Linked DNA regions of Homo sapiens. The protein of the gene in region 1 purifies or fractionates together with the protein of each later gene. This does not show direct contact. Each region holds a gene or a part of one and is shown on either strand. Other genes may lie near its edges.

What was found. The genes of interacting proteins can lie anywhere in the genome.
Region 2: the proteins of CDADC1 (region 1) and BLTP3B purify together in Homo sapiens (affinity purification with mass spectrometry, with the first as the bait; one large-scale study listed by BioGRID). This does not show direct contact.

The regions. Positions count from the first base shown.
Region 1 is NC_000013.11:49,270,821-49,276,282, forward strand, and holds part of CDADC1 (cytidine and dCMP deaminase domain-containing protein 1), read left to right. Parts: intron 1-3,470; coding exon 3,471-3,520; intron 3,521-5,462. UniProt on the Homo sapiens protein: Catalyzes the deamination of cytidine and deoxycytidine into uridine and deoxyuridine, respectively. May play an important role in testicular development and spermatogenesis.
Region 2 is NC_000012.12:100,087,375-100,091,048, forward strand, and holds part of BLTP3B (bridge-like lipid transfer protein family member 3B), read right to left. Parts: intron 1,722-3,674; coding exon 1,541-1,721; intron 1-1,540. UniProt on the Homo sapiens protein: Tube-forming lipid transport protein which mediates the transfer of lipids between membranes at organelle contact sites. Required for retrograde traffic of vesicle clusters in the early endocytic pathway to the Golgi complex.

The DNA of each region.
Region 1 (5,462 bases):
CTGAGCTTGGTGATTTATATATGTATCTCATTTAACATTGAGGGTACTTCAGTAAGGTGGATATCCCTATGATACAGTGCGCTTCCAATTAAGCTTTTAATTTCACATTATTCAGTTTGGTTTGATGACCTCATTTCTCCCTAATTAATAGATGAAGATACCATTTCATTTAAAAATGTACATATGATTAAAATGAATTCCAAAACCTCTAACAACAGAGTTCTAAAATGAATTGAAAGTAGTTGCTTATAATTGCTTTTTGAATGATGAATAAAGAGGATCCATAGAGATGTCATGAAAAGTATGTTACTAGCCAGGTGCGGTGGCTCCCGCCTGTAATACCAGCACTGGGAGACTGAGGCAGGAGGACTGCTTGAGGCCAGGAGTTCCAAAAGTATGTTTCTAGAATACCCGAAGGTAGCAAAAAAGTGGAAAAAAAAAGTGTTTAGACTCTTGGGGAAAAAAGAGCAGGAGGAAGGCATCAAAAATCTTATCTATCTGCTTTAAGTACTGAGTTGTGATCTCTTCGTGTCTTGCTTTCTCATCAGATTAGGTGTTTTCCAAAGCTAAGGATTATGCCTTCCTCCTGGGCCACAGTACTGATAATGAGAGTAGGCTGGAGTAATCAAGAAAGTTAACTTTTAAAACAGAACTCAGTGGTTCTCAGATATGAGTATGCCTGAGAATCAAGGGGGAGCTCAGGAGTAATGCAGATTCCTAAGCCTTGCCTGCCTCTCTCAGAGAGGTTGATTTAGGGGACTTCCATGGAAGCCAGGAGTTGCCTCTTTTTTTTTTTTTTTAAATTTTAAAAACAAGCATCCAGTAATTTTGATGCAAGAGGACTGTGGAGCACCTTGGACACTGACATGACCACAGGATTGGGAGCTAAAATAACCACACCTGTGTTCTAGAACAAAAAGTTCCCCTCTGATTTTCAGTGATCAAAGAGCCCCAGGAATTTGACTCAATGATTGTAAGTTGACCTTTCCTTCAAAGTTGTACAGAGAAAACCCTGTGAATGACCAGATCATAGGGAGCAATTTCTGTAAAAATTATAGACATGAAAAGATTTTTGAGAAATTACCTCATCTGTCACCAGCCTTGATGCTGAGTGACATCAAATCTGTTTTATATGGATGAAAATTTATTCCTATTTTAAAAGACAAGTAGTAAAGAATATTCTCTTGATGTAACCAACCTTAGCTAGGCAGCAGAGCTGCATGCTGATGGAAAAATCACATTTTTTTTTTCCTCCTAACAAGGTTTAGTCTGTCCCCAGGCTGAAACAGAAAAAGTGGCTTCTGTGACTAAGAAACATAACATTAAAAATATGCAGTGTTGATGGTAGAAAAGGGGGCTTTTAATATGGAGAATTTTTATTCTGGTTTTTTATTTTTTCATTTTAGATTTATGCATAAATTAAATAAAACTTTAAAGATTTTGGTTTTGCAGGCAAATATAATCTTATGTTTATAACTTCTGCCACTTACCTTAGAAATGAGCATAAAGCCATTGATTTGTATTCTTGCCCACTCATGTTAAACTCTAAAGGTCTAGGAAGGAACCCAATTTTGTTTACACCAAAATCCCTTTTCCCTCTACTCTGTAGAAGGAAGTCATCTCGTGCACTCTGCTGTTCAGCCTCATTTATTTCCTTCAGAGCACAGCACATAAAGTACTGTTTGTTTCCTTGTTGCTGTTCTCCTTCACCATCCAACTGTAAGTCGTATGAGGAAGGGACTACAGTTTCCCTCACCACTGCATCCTCAGTTCTCACAGTACTTGGAACATAAGAGGCATTCAATAAATGGAAATTTTTGTCAAGGATTTCTTTTTCTTTTTTTTTTTTTTTTTTGAGATGGAGTTCTGCTCTGTCCCCCAGGCTGGAGTGAAGTGGTACGATCTCAACTCACTGCAACCTCCGCCTCCCAGGTTTAAGCAATTCTCCTGCCTCAGCCTCCCAGGTAGCTGGGATTACAGGCATGCACCACCACACCTGGCTAATTTTTGTATTTTTAGTAGAGACGGGGTTTCACCATGTTGGCCAGGCTGTGTCAAGGAATTCTTTATGTCACGGTGCAAGGTGGAGGAAAGGCCAAGCAGGTTGGATCTGGAGGGCTAAGTTTTAGTCTATTTCTTTGCCTGTTTCTGCATCTAGAAATGGAAATTTTATCTGCTTTACCTTTAGGGTAAAAATGAGATCATGAATAAACATGTTTAACATAAATTATACAAATGCTTTGTGGTATAATTTTGAAAACCAGGGTTTGCTTGAATTTGAGATGGGAAATTTTATTAGAGTATCATAACTGTTTTAAAGTTAACCTCTTAATAAGACATTCATTCTAGTTTTTAATGCAATTGTGGCACAAATTTTCTTTGTACCTTTACTGGAAAGTAGGTATTTAAAAATGTTATCATTGGAGGGATTCACTTTTAGGAAATTGTAGGGTGAAACCACGGTTTCAGTTAATCCTCCCCAAAATGAAAATGCCTTAGGGTAAGTTCACAGATAATTGTTATTTTCTACGTGTAAATGTGCCACTTAACTACCTTAGTCCCTTATTAAGATTTTGATAAATACTATGGTTTTCATAATTAGTGTAATTTGTCTTAGAAATTTGAAACTCAACATTGTATAGAAGGAAAAAGTAAATCCTTAATATGTAGAATTTCTATTTTGTTTTTTAATTTTCTGTTTCAGATTAATGGTTTTAAGAAGTACAGCTTTACTTTTGCAAAGGTTTTGGTTCTACAGGGAAATTATAATCTTATGTTTGTTTATAACTTCTGCTATTTGATTTAGAAATGGGCAAGATGTCATTAACTTGCATTCTTTTTCCCTCAAGGTAAACTGAAGGTCAAAGAAAGGACAACATTTTGTTTAAATCAGAATTCTCTTCATGTACTTTCTAGCAATAGATAGATAGATCCATAAAGATTTGTTTATGTTCGTATGAGAAGTTTGAACTTTTTTCTTAGCAAGAACATTTTCATAAGATATATTTTCCATGATTAGAGTATAAATAATGCTGGGAAAAGACAAATTTGGTTGTTGTGAACAGTTATTACACAAAATCCATTAGTTCTGAAACCTTTATTAAATTTTATCACCTATCAGAAGTAGTTGTTTAGAAACCGGCTTGTTAATGGAGAATCAATGAAGTTGCACTTAGTTCTGGCTACAGCTTTGAGGGACCTGACTGTGGACACTGCCATTTAGTGGCCTCCACATACGTATGTGTGACTGAGTTGGTAGTGACTCTCTCTAGTTATTTGGTACCTAGCTCCCATATTCCATACTTAAAAGTGTTTATTTTAATACTTTTCTGTAATTAGTGAAGATACAAGGATTGCTGCTACATTTATGAAGTATGTTTCAATACAAGTTTTTATTACTTTTGGAAAAATATATTTCTAAAACTAACATATCATAATTTTTACTGAGTTAAATGCCATATATCTTTCAGAGGATCATAAAACAGGAGTTGGGGCAGTCATTTGGGCAGAAGGGAAATCTGTAAGTATGAAAACAATTCTTTAAATATTTAACCTGGATTTTGTTTAAACATAGTTCAGTCTTCGGTGCATTACAGGTTACTGACTGCCAAGGCGGGCAGATCACAAGGTCAGGAGATTGAGACCATCCTGGCTAACACAATGAAACCCCATCTCTACTAAAAAAAAAAAAAATACAAAAATTAGCTGGGCGTGGTGGCGGGTGCCTGTAGTCCCAGCTACTCGGGAGGCTGAGACAGGAGAATGGTGTGAACCCGGGAGGCCGAGCTTGCTGTGAGCAGAGATCGTGCCACTGCACTCCAGCCTGGGTGACAGAGCGAGACTCCGTCTCAAAAAAAAAAAAATATTAATATTTTTGTAATGGTGCATTTATGAAGATCTATAAAGATTTGCTCATCCCTCAACAGTTTTCTAGATAGACGCATTCATTCAGCAAACATTTGTTAAACACTCTCTACAGGTTAGGCACTGTGCCACAGTGAATGCTGGGGATTAAAGATCACATTTTATGGCCTCATAGTTTAGTGATGGAGATGTAGAAGTAAAATATAACTGATATGTAAGTGTAATTATAACTGATATCATGAGAACATAGAGGAGGAACCTTTGCTTGGAAAAATAAGTAAATACTGTTGGTGAATATTATTAATGTTACTAATATAATATTCTTGAAGAATAAGATAATTTCTTCAGACAGAGCAAGTCAATAGGACCAGGAGGATAACATGAATATTCTTGGTGAACATTCTTTTTTTTTTTTTTTTGAGACAGAGTCCCCCTCTGTCACCCAGGCTGGAGTGCAGTGGTGCAATCTTGGCTCACTGCAACCTCTGCCTCCTGGATTCAAGTGATTCTCATGCCTCAGCCTCTTGAATAGCTGGGACTATAGGCATGTACCACCACACCTGGCTCATTTTTGTATTTTTAGTAGAGATGGGATTTTGCCATGTTGACCAGGCTGGTCTTGAACTCCTGGCCTCAAGCAGTCCACCCTCTTCTGCCTCCCAAAGTGCTGGGATCACAGGTGTGAGCCACCATGCCTGCCCTGAATATTCTTAATATTAATATTAATAATGTTAAAATTCTTGAAGATTAGGAGGATATCATCAGGCAGAGCAAGTTAATGGGACCAGGAGAATAACACACAGAGACTGGGGTGAGAGAGAGAATATGGGAAAACGCATTTGATTTGGCACATAGAGTAAGCAACAAAGTGGACGGGACCATGAAGAACTCTATATTCCATGTAAAGATTTTGGACTTTATCCTGGCAGTGACATACTATAGCACAGCACTAACCAGTAGAGAGAAAAGGCAAGGCTCAAACTGAATTTTAAATTTTCTAGGTGTTATATATATATATATATATATATATATATATATATATAGAGAGAGAGAGAGAGAGAGAGAGAGAGAGAGAGAGAGAGAGAGAGAGAGAGAGAGAGAGAGAGAGAGAGTCTCACTCTGTTGCCAGGCTGGAGTGCAGTGGTGCAGTCTGAGCTCACTGCAACCTCTGCCTCCTGGGTTCAAGCAATTCTCCTGTCTCAGCCTCCCCAGTAGCTGGGACTACAGGTGTGTGCCACCACACCCAGCTAATTTTTGTGTTTTTAGTAGAGATGGGGTTTCACCATGTTGTCCAGAATGGTCTCAATCTCTTGACTTCGTGATCCACCTGCCTTGGCCTCCCAAAGTGCTGGGATTACAGGTGTGAACCACTGCAACCAGCTGGAGCCATGTTTTTAAAAGGAAGACAGATAAATTAATTTTAAGAAAATATTTAATCATGTAATCAATAAAAAATTATTGATGAAATATTCTGCATTTAAAAAATATTAAATCTTCAAAATTCTATGTGTATTTTACACCTGCAGCACCTCTCAATCTAGACTAACCACATGTGGCTAGTGGCGACTGTATGGGACAGTGCATTCCAAGAATGTTCT
Region 2 (3,674 bases), on another chromosome or scaffold:
GTAAAATCCAATTTATCTCAACTAGTAGAATTTTCAGCACAGGTCTACAATCCCTTACGTAAAACCTTTGGAAAGCCAAATGTTTCAGAATTCAGAAATGTTTAGATTTCACGACAGTAATATGATACGGTATATACAGGATATACCATGCAACACTCTCAGCAGGTTCTGAGGCAGCACTAATAAAAATAGCAATTCTGCAGCAAAACATAAATATTTATAGGAAGCAGGCAAAGAATAAAAAAAAGTATTGGCATAAGTCAGGTTTTGCCACCAAATGAGTTTTTCACAAACTTATAATATTTCAGAGCCTTTTGGATTTCACAATAGTGATTACAGACCTGTACTATTAAGGAGATATTTTGGTGAAAAGGTTTTCTTCCTAAATAAAATCATTCAATTTATTCTATCAGGGAATAGTGAGGAATGTAAGGCCTTAGAAAACACTTTCTCCATTCTCATTCTTACTACTTAATCTTGACCACCTCATTTTCTTAGTTTGGTTTGTTCTAACTTTTTTGGATTTTCCTTTCAAATCTCTAAAGTAAAAGATGCCAACTATAAGTCAAATGACACAATGGTAGTCAGAACAAAAGATAACAAATCCCTCCACAAACCCCGAATCTTCCTCACCTTTGCCCCTCCAACCTTTTAGGCTGGAATCTTTTAGGCTGCCTTGTCTAATGAAGGCAGGGTAACTTCTACTGCTAAGTATCCAGGGTCTCAATATTCACTTTCTCAGCTTAAAAACACATGGCAAAAATTTTTGTAGATATAGATCCTGATTCAGATCTGAGGCACAGAGATCAGATAACTCTATTGTTTAAAGGTCTTCAGCCTGATTCTAATGCTCACCAAAGTTTGAGAATTATAGTCCTTAAGGTAGGCCTACCTGCTGAACTCAACCCCAACACTTCTGGGCCAGGGATGCTCTCCAGCAGAGAAACAAAAACGCCCAGCGCCTAGATTACAGAACTACATCTACTAAATAAGGAAAAATAACAGGGACAAAAACTAAAAGAAAATTCCTAACTGGAATTTTGCTTCCTAATCAAATTTTGGAAGGATGGGAAGAGAGGTGGCCATAAAATATGTTAAATAGTTGCACAGTTGTGCTTCTATTCAAAATAGGTAGAAAAACTGCAATGCTGAAAACACATCTACAAATAATTATGAATTAAGTATGGACTAAAATTTAATTTGGAGACAATTTCAACATTATCAAAAAGTTAATTCAAAGGCGAGTCTAATATTTCATCATCCTCCTAGAGGATCATCTATTCAGTCTGATTTTTTTAAAGCTAATTTTATTGTTAGCATTGATAGCTAACAAATAATTAAGCTTAAGTACTGCTAAAGCAAAATAAAATTTCATACCAATATATGCTTCCAGTTGTGCCTTTCATCTATATATTCATATGAACACAATTATGACAAATTATCTTACAGGACATCCTACACAACAGATTTAATAAACAATCCAGTTTTGTAGTCAATTCTAGAAAAACCAAAATAGTTTGAAATAAGCAAGTTATTTTACCTTTTTCTTTAGCATGAATGTCATCACATATGTGTAGATCTAGATGAGAAATCACTAAATGATGGGAGGTTTCCTTAACATCAAAATCATTGAATAGTTTCACAATTGCATCATTTACATCAGGAGCATTTGAAGTTTGCGTTGTCTTCACTTGCTGGGCAGATGCGACTACTGTAGAGCTCTAAAAAGATTCGAAACTGCCTTATCACTGCCAATTTAAATACTGGAAATTTCACACAAAAATCTAAGTATTTTCAGTCGAAAGTCATGAAAAATAACCATAGTACATCTTATTTTTCATCAATAATATATTTTCCCTAAAATATTTTCTGAATTACCTAAGAATAAAACTAAAATTTAAAAACGGTAAAACTAGGCTCATGCCTGTAATCACAACACTTTGGGAGGCCGAGGCAGGCGAATCATCTGAGGTCAGGAGTTCAAGACCAGCCTCGCTAACATGCTGAAACCCCATTTCTACTAAAAATATAAAAAATTAGCTGGGCGTGGTGCCGCATGCCTGTAATCCCAGCTACTTGGGAGGCTGAGGCAGGAGAATCACTTGAACCCGGGAGACAGAGGCTGCAGTGAGCTGAGACCGTGCCACTGCACTCCAGCCTGGGTAACAGAGCGAGACTCCATCTCAAAAAAACAAAAACAAAAACAAAAAAACAAACAAAAAAACTGTAAAACTATACACAAATCAAATATGAACCCAATATATCTCAGTAAATATCTGAAGTTATATTTAACATATTTATAGCCCTTGTTTTAGAAAATGTAGTTAACTCTTAAAGGCAGTTTATTTGAATATTATATATATTAAAAACAAAACAAATGTGGGCCCTGTATACACTGTTATATATCTGATATGGTTTGGCCCTGTGTCCCCACCCAAATCTCATCTTGAATGGTAGTCCCACAATTCCCACGTGTTGTGGGAGAGACCTGGTGGGAGATAATTCAATCATGGGGGTGGCTTCCCCCATACTGTTCTGGTGGTAGTAAATAAGTCTCACGAGATCTGATGGTTTATCAGGGGTTTCTGCTTTTGCAGCTTCCTCATTGTTTCTTTGACTGCTGCCATCCATGTAAAATGGGACTTGATCCTCCTTGCCTTTCACCACGATTACGAGGCTTCCCCAGCCACATGGAACTGTAAGTAGATTGCCCTGTCTCGGGTATGTCTTTATCAGCAGCGTGAAAAGGGACTAATATGATATCCTATAGAAATAAAGCACATCTTTGTAGAAGCCCCTGTGATATTATTTAGTACTCTAAGTGCTCTGGTGCCTCTCCTAAAAGATGTGGTATGTCCTTTGAACTTGAATAACTAAAGAAGCCAGAAAGGAGACAGGATTTATAAATAGGTTGTGAGTTCAAATATTTTTCTCCCTGAAGAGAAATAGTATAGAACCCTGTTGATATATAAAAATAAATATGAACCTCTAATAGCCTAAAATTATTTTGTATACATAACTATAATGTAAGATTATCTGACATATGAGCCACAAAACTGTAGATGAATTTTTATAATAATTATAAGACCAAATTTTCCACTTTAAAAATTAACAATGTTCAAATTTAGAACAAGTTATTAACTAAAGATAATTAAAGAAAATCAAAGTATATGTATTTTGCATGTATATATATTTACACATATTACATCTATGAAGAACTATGATCATACTGTAAAAGAACTGCAAAGTATACTTAGTAAATGAGAATCTCTTCATGAAAATGATTGCAGCCCAAGGTAAGTAAAGAAACAAAGTGAAATATAGCTGTAAAACGTTAAATACTATAGACTCCAGAAAACTTTTTATTAATTAATTGTTAAACTGATATCAAACACTTTTTCTCCTGCTTTTCCCATTTTCAAAGCTATAACAAGACTGTATTTATGTCTATGATGGTGCTATTTAAAATACTCTCCGGTACTTCTTTCATTATGTTTTCTCTCTTATCAAGATAAATACTGATAAAAATAAAAATATAAACATTTATCTACCTACAAACCTTTTTCTTAATACTATGGTAAAGTCAGGTTTTGGGATGCTATTTCTGGAAGAAAAAAAATGGGCCACTATAAGCTCTCTGCCTCATGAATAATCCTTTTTTTTTTTTTTTGAGG